Linked DNA regions of Homo sapiens. The protein of the gene in region 1 purifies or fractionates together with the protein of each later gene. This does not show direct contact. Each region holds a gene or a part of one and is shown in the gene's direction. Other genes may lie near its edges.

Region 1 (3,648 bases):
CTCACCCATCTCCATTTCCTCCCCCTCCTCCCCCTCCTCCTCCCCCTCCTCCTCCCCCTCCTCCTTCTCCTCCTCCTTCTCCTCCCTCCTCCCCCTCCTCCTCCCCCTCCTCCTCCCCCTCCTCCTTCCCCTCCTCCTTCCCCTCCTCCTTCCCCTCCTCCCCCTTCCCCTCCCCCTTTGCCCTCCTCCCCTTCCTCCTCCCCCTCCCCCTCCCCCACCTCCTCGCTCTTCTCCCCTTCTTCCCCTTCCTCCTCCCCTGTCCCCTCCCTTTCCTCCTCCTCCCTCATGCCCTCGCACACCTCAGGGCAGCTTGCCTGAGGCATTGATGGTAGGTCCTGCTGTGCCTGGTCCCTGGCTGGTAGAGTGAGGATGAGGGCAGGGAAGGGAAAACACCCAACAAAGGTTTGCTTTTGTTGTTGAAATCAAGCCAGTTACCCTGTGGGAAGTGAAGCTTGCTCCCACCATAGAACTCTGGGCAATGATGTAAAGCACACACCTCACCTCAGATATGTCTCACAGCAGGGGCCGGGGAACTGGGATATTTGTACACCAGTTCCCATCAGCCACCAGCTGCTGCTGCTCCTGGGCACTGATTCCGCAGCACTTCTGGCTGGTGGGCAAAGCAGGCAGGAAAAGGCATACGGATATGGGGGGTTGGGAGTTCACCCTGTGGGAAGGGCAGAGGGAGAGGCGCCAGACACTAAGAGCCAGGGCTGTACACAGGGACCCTTCAGGTCAACAGCTCTTTATTAAACACCTGCTGCCTGCTCTAGGCCAGATCCTAGAGACGCAGGGTGAGCAAGACCCGTCTCTGTCCCTGAGCTCTTGGTTGGTTGGGAGGTGGCCCTTAACCAGATCATCAGCACACATGGTAAGGAGTGTGTGACGGAGGGAAGGGCAGTGCCCTGGGAGCAGGATGAAGGATGGGGCTGGCAGGGCAGGAGACCAGATCTGAACAGAGCCTGGAGGGTCTTAGTCAAGGAGGGCAGAAGAAGGCATACAGAGTGGGGCCAGGTGAGTCAAAGCCTGAGGCTCGGGGAGGGGCTGGGGAGCACGGAGCCCGCCCCTAGCCTGCTGGCAAGAGCTGTAGGAATCATGTCCGGAGTAGGGAACAGGGCTGAGTCTGGGCCTGTTAGCCTCAAGGCACATAAGGCACATAAGGGCCAGGCTGGGCTTTTCCTGGAGCCCTTGCCGCTCTGTGGCTCTCAGTCTGGGGCCTTAAGCCTGACCCAGGGCCTTCTCCCAGGCTCTGTCCCTGGGCTCATTAAGCCTGGTTGTTCCAGAAGCTCAGTACCCCACCAGGCAGCTCCTGCCTGCACTGATGCCCCTAGAAACCAGCCCTCCCGCCCGCCCCCGCTCACATGGACAGTGGTGCTACTGATCACTGTGACCAGAACTGACCCACAGGACACAAGGAGCTAACATGGTAGAGCTGTCACAGTTGGGCAGTGGTGTTACTGCCCCTCGAGGGAGTGAAATAGCAGGCCTGTGGCTCCCTGCCAAGCTGCGCGCATGGTAGACTGGGCTGCACAGGAAAGGAAAGACCCTGCCATTTATGAAGCCCTGTGGAGGGTGCTGGGCACAGTTCTCTCATTCCATCCTTTAAGGCAGGTATAATCAGGCCCATTTCACAGAAGAGGAAACAGAGGCCCAGAGAGGAAAAGTGACTTGCCCACGGTCACAGAGCTCATAAGCAGGGGAGCTGGGAATTGCAGCCTGGGGTTTGTCTGATTCCAAATCCGGGGCTCTTTACCTCCCCACTTGGTAATAAAGGGTGCTGGTGCTGCATTCTGCTTCTGTTCTTGGCTTCCTTCTCCATAGAGCAGAGTGGTAGAACACATAACCTCCCTGTGCCTCAGTTTCCTCATCTGTCAAGGATGGTGACAGGGGCAGGTATGCAGAGGCACAGCGCAGACGACGCCACCATGCTACCTGCTTGCTGATTAATGATAGGGTGTCCAAGCCAAAAAATAAAACTAAACATTAAAAAATAAAACAATACAGCGTAATAACGGCAACAAGAAAAAGCCTTTTTGAGCTGGGCCGTCTAACCAGGTGTCCCCAACACCCTGTCTGGAGTGCCTGGAAAAGGAGCCCCTGTGAGAACAGGAAGTCCTCTCTCGACAGAGGGACACCAAGAAAACGCAGCCAGGTCCAACAGCCCGCTGGCTCCCATGCTGGGTACCGGCCAGGACACCAGGGCTGAGCGGGGCATGCGAAGGGAGATGAAAGGTGACTGCACTGAGGATTTGCCCTGTGTACTCGCCTCTGCAAGATCCACATCTCAGCTGCACAACTGGCTGGCTTGTGTGTGAGCCTCAGTTTTATCATCAGTAAAATGGGGGAATAATCATATCCAGCTCAGAGGTTTAACTTCAGCCTAGTGCACGGAAGACATGGTAAATGGTCATCGCTTCTCCCTTGAATGGACCGAGGGCCCCCGACTCCCATAGCACTACCCCATAAAGTCTAGGCTCCCGACTTCGGCATTCAAGGCCTTCAGTGATAAATCCAGGCCCACCATCCGTCCCCACACCACCTTTCACACACCCCCTGCCCCCACCCTCGCAGGCCTCTTATTTTAGCTGCACATGCTCTCCCTGCCTCCGAAATGCTTGCGGCCTTTCCTTTCCATTTATTGACGCCCTTGTGTTCTCTCTGAGCAGCCCTTCCCTGTGTCCCTAGCTGGAGTTCCTCACTCCCTCCTCAGTGTCCTGAAGCTTCTTGTTAGAGCTGCTGCAGCCACTGCGTGTGTCTGACAGCAAGTCTGCAGCCTCTGCCTCCCTTGCGGGACTGCAGGTGACTTGAAGGCACAGCCTGGTTCCCAGGAGGCTGGCTTTCGTGCCACTGGCCCCAGGGCTGAAGGCAGGCCAGCTCCAGCCACCTGCTGAGTCTCCTAAGTCCAGAGTGTCAGAGACCTCAAGAGACTCTCACCCACTGACCCACCTGGGGACTCTGGAAATCGGGATGTGACCAGGGAAGACCCTGTCACGGGGCCTCTGAATTCAGCCTCATCCCAAGTCCCCACTCTATACTTGTGTCTGCAGAACAGCCTGCTTGGACACAGCTCGGTGGAAGATGCGAGGGCAACGATGGAGCTCTATCAAATCTCCCAGAGAATCCGAGCCCGCCGAGGGCTGCCCCGCCTGGCTGTGTCAGACTGAAGCCCCATCCAGCCCGTTCCGCAGGGACTAGAGGCTTTCGGCTTTTTGGGACAGCAACTACCTTGCTTTTGGAAAATACATTTTTAATAGTAAAGTGGCTCTATATTTTCTCTACGCCATCACTGGGTCCTCTTCTTATTCTTCTCTCCAAGCTGGGTTAACAGTAGACAGGACCCATTTCTGTGTGATGTTAGGAGGGAATGAAGTCTTATGCTGGGGAGGTGGGCAAGTATCAATTTCCTTAATATCTTGAATCCTGTGGGTCCAAAATGTGGCTTGGAAATCTAAGTAGCATGTGGCTTAATTACTAATCCCACCCTTTGCTGTTGCATCCCAGCCCTATTCCTGGTGCATTTATGCCCAGAGAGGTGGCATTATTTCCTGGGGTGGCATTCAGCTCCTCTTGAGTTGGTGCCACAGCATTTGTGGGCTTTGAAGCAAAGGTACAGGAAATGTCAAGGGTGCCACCCCGGCAACCTTGAGC
Region 2 (4,163 bases), on another chromosome or scaffold:
AGCCTGGGCAACAAGAATGAAACCGTGTCTCAAATTAAAAAAAAAAAAAGCCTGTTCTCACCGGGTGCGGTGGCTGACATGTGTAATCCCAGCACTTTGGGAGTCCCACGCGGGCGGATCACCTGCGATCAGGAGTTCAAGACCAGCCTGGCCAACATGGTGAAACGCCGTCTCTACTAAAAAATACAAAAAATAGCCAGACGTGGTGGCGCATGCCTGTAATTCCAGCTACTCAGGAGGCTGAAGCAGGGAGAGTTTCTTGAACCAGGGAGGTGGAGGTTGCAGTGAGCTGAGATCTCGCCACTACACTCCAGTCTTGGTGACACAGTGAGACTCCATCTCCGGAAAAAAAAAAAAAAAAAAAAAGGCCGAGCGCAGTGGCTCATGCCTGTAATCCCAGCACTTTGAGAGGCCGAAGCGGGTGGATCACCTGAGGTCAGGAGTTCGAAACCAGCCTGACCAATATGGTGAAACCCCGTCTCTACTAAAATTACAAAAATTAGCTGGGCACGGTGGCAGGCGCCTGTAATCCCAGCTGCTCTGGAGGCTGAGGCTGGAGAATCGCTTGAACCCGGGAGGCAGAGGTTGCAGTGAGCCGAGATTGCGCCACTACACTCCAGCCTGGGCAACAGAGAGAGACTCGGTTTCAAAAAAAAAAAAAAATCTATTCTCTTAATAAATGTCAAAGTCATAACGACAAAGCAAGACTGGAGGAACTACTTCAGATTAAAGCAAACTAAAGAGAGACACAACTAAATGCAACGTGCAGTCCTGGATTGGACAATTGGCAAAAAGGGAACATGGAGGGTGGATTAAATCGTACTGTATCAAAGTTAAACTTCCTTGTGGTAATTGTAGTTATGTAAGAAAATAAGACTGTCATCGCACATCTAGTCTACCAATCAATAGCCCCTAGTCCCAAGGCCGCCTCGCCTCCCTGGCTATTTAGTGATGAGTCAGATGATACCTCCCAGCGCTTCGCCCTCGCCCCCTGACATCCTCCCTATCCCTGCTTTAGGGGCTTTTCCTCTCTTACTGTGCCATACCCTCCACCGTCTCCCCTCCTGTCTCCTGGGCTCTACTCCTCCCTGCCCTCCTCTGCGTCCTGGCCCTCCCGCTCTCTTCCGCTTTGCGCTCCCAGGCTCCTTCCACCTCCTGCCAGCTCCCTTCCTCCTCCAGGTGCGCACCCCCTACCATTAGCCCCGCTGCGCGCTTGCGCTCTACGCCCAAGGGAGCCGGGCTGCAGAGCTGGAGAAACTTCCGCGGCTACGGGTGCAGTTGCCTTCGGTTCCCGGTTCCGGGCCGACACCCGCGCAGGGCTGAGACAGGTGTCTGCGCTCCCCGCAATGGGCTGCTCCAGCAGCGCCCTCAACAAGGCCGGCGACAGCAGCAGGTTCCCCAGCGGTGAGCAGGGTACCGGCGCCGCCCGCGCCCGGGCTGGGGACTCGGGTGGGCTAACTCCCCAGGAGGTCCAAAGGGTGTGTCCCGTGGCCACCCCGCCTGGCAGGAGCCGGGCCTTGTCCCGGAGGATGCGAGCAGAACCCGGGACAAAGCGCGATTTCCTTCCAAATCTGGAGCGGCGCTGCTGTGACCGCGGGTGCGGCGGCCCTGGTGCGCTCCGCGGCGCTCGCTGCGAGACGCGCGGGGCCCGAGGCCGGGCGCTGGATTCACCCTGTCCGCTGATGGGATCTCGGGGAGTTGGTGTTGAGGCCCTAAGGCGGTTAGCCTCGGCATTGCCTTAAACACAGGAGAAATGTCCTATCAAGGCCTTCTACCAAGGCTGGGGGCGGTGGCTGACGACTGCAATCTCAGCACTTTGGGAGGCTGAGGCGGGACGATCTCTTGAGACCAGAAGTTCGAGAAAAACCTGGGTAACAAAGCGAGATCTTCCGCTCCCCCGTCTCTACTAAAACACCAACAAAAAAGACTTTTCCCCATTTACCCTCCCATTAGCGTTTCAGCATCAAAGATGGCAAAAGATGCGGAGAATCCAGAGGAGCATTCACTCCATCAAATGGGTCCCTGCACTCTGAATAGGTCAGACACACTTTCCCCTATCTTCGGCTTAAGTATCAGTTGAGAAGTATGTGTGATCAAAAGTGGTCATCACTGACTCTTGCTGAAGAAACTCAACAAGGACATTTTGAGCATCTGCTATATAATACCCCAGTGCTTGGCTAGATGCTGGAGATACAAGTGACCCTGTTTGTAGAGATTGAAGATAGAAGAGACAGAAAAGAAACACGTGAAACAATTGGCTAAGATCGTTTCTGACAGTGATAAGTACTGTGAAAAGTATAAACGCAGTTACATGAATTAGAGAATGACAGGGTTTTACAGCCGACTCACTTTTCTTAGATTTTGAATGGCTAAAATTTTGGACAATGCTATGGAGGTTAAGCAAACTCCGTCAAGCTAGTTTACAGTCTTCTGCAAGGCGAACTTTAGCGGGGATTTTGTACTGGAGTGAATTCCTTTTCACAGATTTTCTCTTAGCACCTTGTGTTATTGCAGTAACAGAAATGTCTTCCTCTGATGTTGTTGGTAGAGCGCACCAGACGGTGAGGAATGCTTTTCAAAGCTCAGCCGCTGTGTCCTAGTCAGAAATATGTTGTGTTGCTGTTATTTTTGTGGTGTATGAGAATTTATTTCTAGTTTCCATAGATAACGGAAAGCAATGACAAGTCAGGAAGTAAACAAAAAATTAAAAGCATTATAAAAGTAAACCCCTTCTCACTGACAACAATGTGAAAAGATGGAAAAATTCATTTCTAATGCACAGTGCTCACTAACTTTTCTCCTAAAGAACCCAGAGCTTCCATACCTGCAACAAGAGGACAGAGCAAGGAGTTTCTCCGATGTTTCGATGTTTCGTGTTTTATGTTATGAAATTAAGTAGAGTTTTGCATTCTGTTCTATGATAGATTTTTGTGGGTTTCAATATGAAAAGCCGAGGGAAAACAGATGCTTCAGGAAGATACATTTTATTATTCTGACTTCTCTACCCCATGCTGTGCTTCAGTTATCCTAGGAGTAGCATCCTGGTTTAACAAGCAGAGTACTGAGTCACCATTACATAGTTTTAAACTGATTAAAACATGTATTTCAGGGAATGTAACTTTGGGGCAAAAGTATTCAGTAGGTGGAATGCAGTTTTTAATCCTCTCAGAAAATAATGAATAACTTTATCTTTAAAAATATTTTATCATCAATATTAATAACTATTCCACGTGAGTTACACTCTTCCATTTTTTATTCTTGCTTTCATTGCTGTTCTGAGTTTTCATAGGTGTTGTTATGGAAGAGATGTTAAAATGCCTGACAGCCAGTTCTAGCCCTTAGAAAATTAACCTAATATGCGGCGTAAATTGCTCAACACACACGTTGAATCAATCAACAGGTCTATTTGCTTCTAACCCTCGATCAAACAATACTCTCTTGTAATTAGATACTATTCTGTGTTCATCAACATTTCAGCTTCATGATCTTAGGCCCGATAAATAATTCATTCCTGTTTCTGCACCTTGCAACTTCTTTAAATCCTATATACAACCTCAAGCTTGTGTGTACATACTTTTAGACAAAAACAGTTCAAGTTTATTACATGTCTGGTACATGCATTTATTCACTGTACTCTCAGTGCCTAACAACGCTTGGCATATAATAGGTCCTCAGTAATTATTTGTTGAATGAATTACTTCATTTAATCCTTATAACAATGTTATGACTAAATATTATGGTTGTCCTGTTTTTACAGATAAGAGTAAATAATTTATCCAAGGTCACAGAGCTTCTAAGAATCAGAGCTGGGCTTTGAACTCATATGCTTTGTTGGGCACAGTGGCTCATGCTTATAATCCCAATGGCTCTGGAGGCTGATATGAGAGGATTGCTTGAGGCCAGGAGTTCAAGGCCAGCCTGGGAAACATAGTAAGACCCTGTATCTAAAAATTTTTGTAAAAAAATTAAAACATGTATTTCAGGGAATGTAACTCTTGGTGGTACAGGCCAGTAGTCCCAGCTACTCAGGAGGCTGAGGTGAGAGGATTGCTTGAGCCCAGGAGTTCAAGGCTGCAGTGAAGTATGATTGAGCCATTGCACTTCAGTCTGGGCAACAGAGTGAGACTCAATTAAAAAAAAAAAAAAAGAAACTATATGTTTAA
Region 3 (3,648 bases), on another chromosome or scaffold:
TTTGTTTTGTTTTGTTTTGTTTTGTTTTTTCAGTTTCTCTGCAGGTGGATATTGTTCCCAGCCAGGGGGAGATCAGCGTTGGAGAGTCCAAATTCTTCTTATGCCAAGGCAAGTGCCTAGTGCTCAGCTGCATTTTAGAACTTGCTTCAGAAACTCACTGGGTAGAGCAGGAGCCCTCAGGCCATGTGAGCTGGCTGGTCAAGCCACACCTAGAATTCTTGGCATTGCTCTATTACAGGGTCAATAGTATGGCCATTTAAGAGCCAGGGCCTCTTCCTTCCTTTTGCAAAAATCTGCCTCAACATAGCAAATCTGTCATCTAGACTTCACCTTGACTACAGAGGAAGTCTAGGAGTTTTCTTAGAAAAATCAGCACAACTTCCAGAATAGTGAATCATCCCCCATCTCCTATTCTGTATACATTCAGAGTTCTGTAAATGACAATGGAGAACAGCACTGGCTCAGAAACAATACTTCGGTGGATCTGTTTAAGGCTTATTTCTTAGAATTCCCCAGAGCTTGAAAATCTAAGTCTAAAACTTGCCTGTAGGTAAATAGAATACTGGTATGGCTTTTGTTGTGAGGACATATATCCTGGGTTTACCAGGTCTATTGTGAATATCGATATTCTGTGCCATGGTCCCCACCAGAGCTCTGAGATATGCCAGACCTGGTGACCTTGTTTTACATTTAGAAAACATGCCCCATTTCCACAGCCCAGATAATTGCCAGAAAATGTCCTGTGGAGGAAAAGGTTTCAAATTAAGCCTCAGATTCTCTGTATATGACATGACTGGGATTCAGAACATGGAAGAACCAGGAAAGAGCTGAGCTAGGTGTAAATGGTGACATTTAGCAAGCAGCTTTTGGCAGGGAGGGGCCTTTAAATGCTGTCATGATTTGCGTGGACGAGGTGGCTTGTGGCCGTCGGATGTGTTCACTCCAGCTTTGCCTTCATTACAGCAATTTCAATGATCTGGAGACGCAGCCGTGGAGCCCACAGCACATCTTGCAAATAGCGATATTTATTGAAAACATGATGGGCCCTGAAAGGAAGACTGCTTCATTTCCATACTAAGCATCTGTGCAGGGCTGGGTGGTGCAGGCTGAGAAGGGCGCCACGCGAAGAGGCAGGGGCCCATGCAAACAGGCAGGGCGCCGCCACATCCGCCGGATCTGAGCGCCCTTCCAGCTCAGTGTCCTGGGCAGTTTCAGTGTCAGAGCCCTGTTCCAGCTCAGTGCCGGGGGCAGCTCAGCCACCACAGTCTGTTCCTCCTCATTGCTGCCTGGGGAAAGGAAGAATGGGTGGTTCTGGCTACCTTCTTTGCAGCATGCAAGGAAATGAATTTGTCTGAGCAGGGAGTGACGAAATGACAGTCATGCCAGTTTGTGCAGGCAGATGCTAGAATAAATGTGGCTGGAAAAAATGAAATAAAAAGTGGTTGGAATCTGCACTCCTATACTAGCCAGTATTTCTCGCCTTCATCTCAGGAGACCCATTATCCAAGGCTTCAAAAACAAGCTGATCAGTAGACTCAGACCAGTTAGGCTCTGGCGCCCGAATCCTAAATACACTAATTCCCTTGGTTACCCGTTGTGTGAGGCATGTGTGTTCCTAGCTTAGTGCCCAGCACACAGTATGTTCTCAACAAGTATCTCTTCTCTTCCATCATTAGGGATAGGACCATGATAACAACTAGTACAAGTGGTTGTTGAGTTCTTTCCAAATATTGTAAGAGGTGTTAAGTATATAATAGTTAAATGCAGAGGCCAAAGAAGGGCTGCATGTCATTCCAGCAGCCATACTCACCCCTCCCTGATGTTCAAGCCTTGACTGATCTGTTGTTCAGTAACTCTTACTGATCAGCCACTGTCAGTCTGGAGGGGACTTATTAGTCTTTTCGACTTCAGTAGCTTAAAAATAATCTCTTCCTCTTTAGTGGCAGGAGATGCCAAAGATAAAGACATCTCCTGGTTCTCCCCCAATGGAGAAAAGCTCACCCCAAACCAGCAGCGGATCTCAGTGGTGTGGAATGATGATTCCTCCTCCACCCTCACCATCTATAACGCCAACATCGACGACGCCGGCATTTACAAGTGTGTGGTTACAGGCGAGGATGGCAGTGAGTCAGAGGCCACCGTCAACGTGAAGATCTTTCGTAAGAGCCTCCTTCTTCTTCTGCATTCTCTGGCCTCTCCTTGCCAAGGAGACATGTGGGTAGTGGAAAGGTGGAAATGATGACAGAAGGACCAGCTGAGGGCCTAACCAGTCCCATTCTCTCTCCCTAAGTCTTTTCTGACCTTGGCCAACCCAGAACTCACAACCCTGGTTCACACTGGTCACAGCTACTCCCCCACAGGCGTTCATTCTCAAAATTCAAATTACATAGTTCCCAGAGGGCTATTACGGGTTTCTCTATCCCTTCCCCAAATGTTGGCTGACTGTTCTGCAATTTGGGCTCCTCTCCCTTCTTATTTCCCTCTCCCCTGCTGGTAATGGAGCCCAGGGCTCAGTGGGGTGGGGGATCATTATCTGAACACTCTCTGCCACTCAGAGCAGGCAGTTCCTATTGCCTCTGAAACCCCATCTGTAGGTGGCATCTCGTTACCTTGTTATTTATATCATGCATCCATCCCAGTGGTTGGAGTAATGGTGGGTGACAGCTAATGGAACAGTATTGATTGCACGGTATTTATTGCCATTAAATGTGCTTTTTTCCTGTTCTTTTCATCAGCATTCTGTCTGCCGTAGGAAAGTTGGGGTGGGACTGGGAGTAGCAGTTCGAGTGGGAGACAAGAAAAGGACTGATGATTCTTACTATTCGTTGTGGAATGGATGTTCCACCAGTTCATTCTACCTATAACCTGTGCTTCACTGGCATCATCCTGCATGACAAGGAACCCTTGGTGAAGATATTCCTTTCATTCTGTAGACCCTTTTCTGCACAAAATGTGATAAATTTAGCACTCAATGAGCAGATATTGGTTGCCAAGCATTGGTAACCTATGCTTGGGCCAGCTGCTCTGCCTGACGTCTCTGAGGGTGCCCCTCTTATACAACTGTACATCAGGATCGAGACTTGCCCAGGACTCAAGTCCAGGTACCATGGCTCTAGTGAAAGGGGTTCTTTGTGAGAGAAGCAGCTGTTTTCCCTCACTCTTCTGTTCATCTTCCAGAGAAGCTCATGTTCAAGAATGCGCCAACCCCACAGGAGTTCCGGGAGGGGGAAGATGCCGTGATTGTGTGTGATGTGGTCAGCTCCCTCCCACCAACCATCATCTGGAAACACAAAGGCCGAGATGTCATCCTGAAAAAAGATGGTGAGACCTGAATTTCCTGGCATCTGCCTTTTCCCCAGGCCACCAAGTTCCCTAGCTTTTTCACCTGTACTGAGGCATTCCAGTCCAAACTCCAATTCATGTGTGCCCGAACCCTCATGTGGTTTCTGGGTCCTGAATAGATGCATATCTGAAGTTGGTATACTTAGGTACCTGATTTTCTCTCCAGTACGAAAGACAAATTTCTAATAGACATTTACTCTTGGCTGTATTTCAAAGCCAGGGACGCATTTTCTTATTTGGGCTTAAAACCCCACCCTATGATACTGAAGTTAGGAAAAAGGAAAGAGACTCAGCCACCTGCCTGCA

What was found.
Region 2: the proteins of ISG20 (region 1) and ERICH5 purify together in Homo sapiens (affinity purification with mass spectrometry; one large-scale study listed by BioGRID and IntAct). This does not show direct contact.
Region 3: the proteins of ISG20 (region 1) and NCAM1 purify together in Homo sapiens (affinity purification with mass spectrometry; one large-scale study listed by BioGRID and IntAct). This does not show direct contact.

The regions. Positions count from the first base shown.
Region 1 is NC_000015.10:88,652,368-88,656,015, forward strand, and holds part of ISG20 (interferon-stimulated gene 20 kDa protein), read left to right. Parts: intron 1-3,047; coding exon 3,048-3,164; 3' UTR 3,165-3,648.
Region 2 is NC_000008.11:98,063,324-98,067,486, forward strand, and holds the start of ERICH5 (glutamate-rich protein 5), read left to right. Parts: upstream 1-1,244; 5' UTR 1,245-1,346; coding exon 1,347-1,404; intron 1,405-4,163.
Region 3 is NC_000011.10:113,202,346-113,205,993, forward strand, and holds part of NCAM1 (neural cell adhesion molecule 1 isoform 2 precursor), read left to right. Parts: intron 1-33; coding exon 34-108; intron 109-1,940; coding exon 1,941-2,159; intron 2,160-3,177; coding exon 3,178-3,321; intron 3,322-3,648.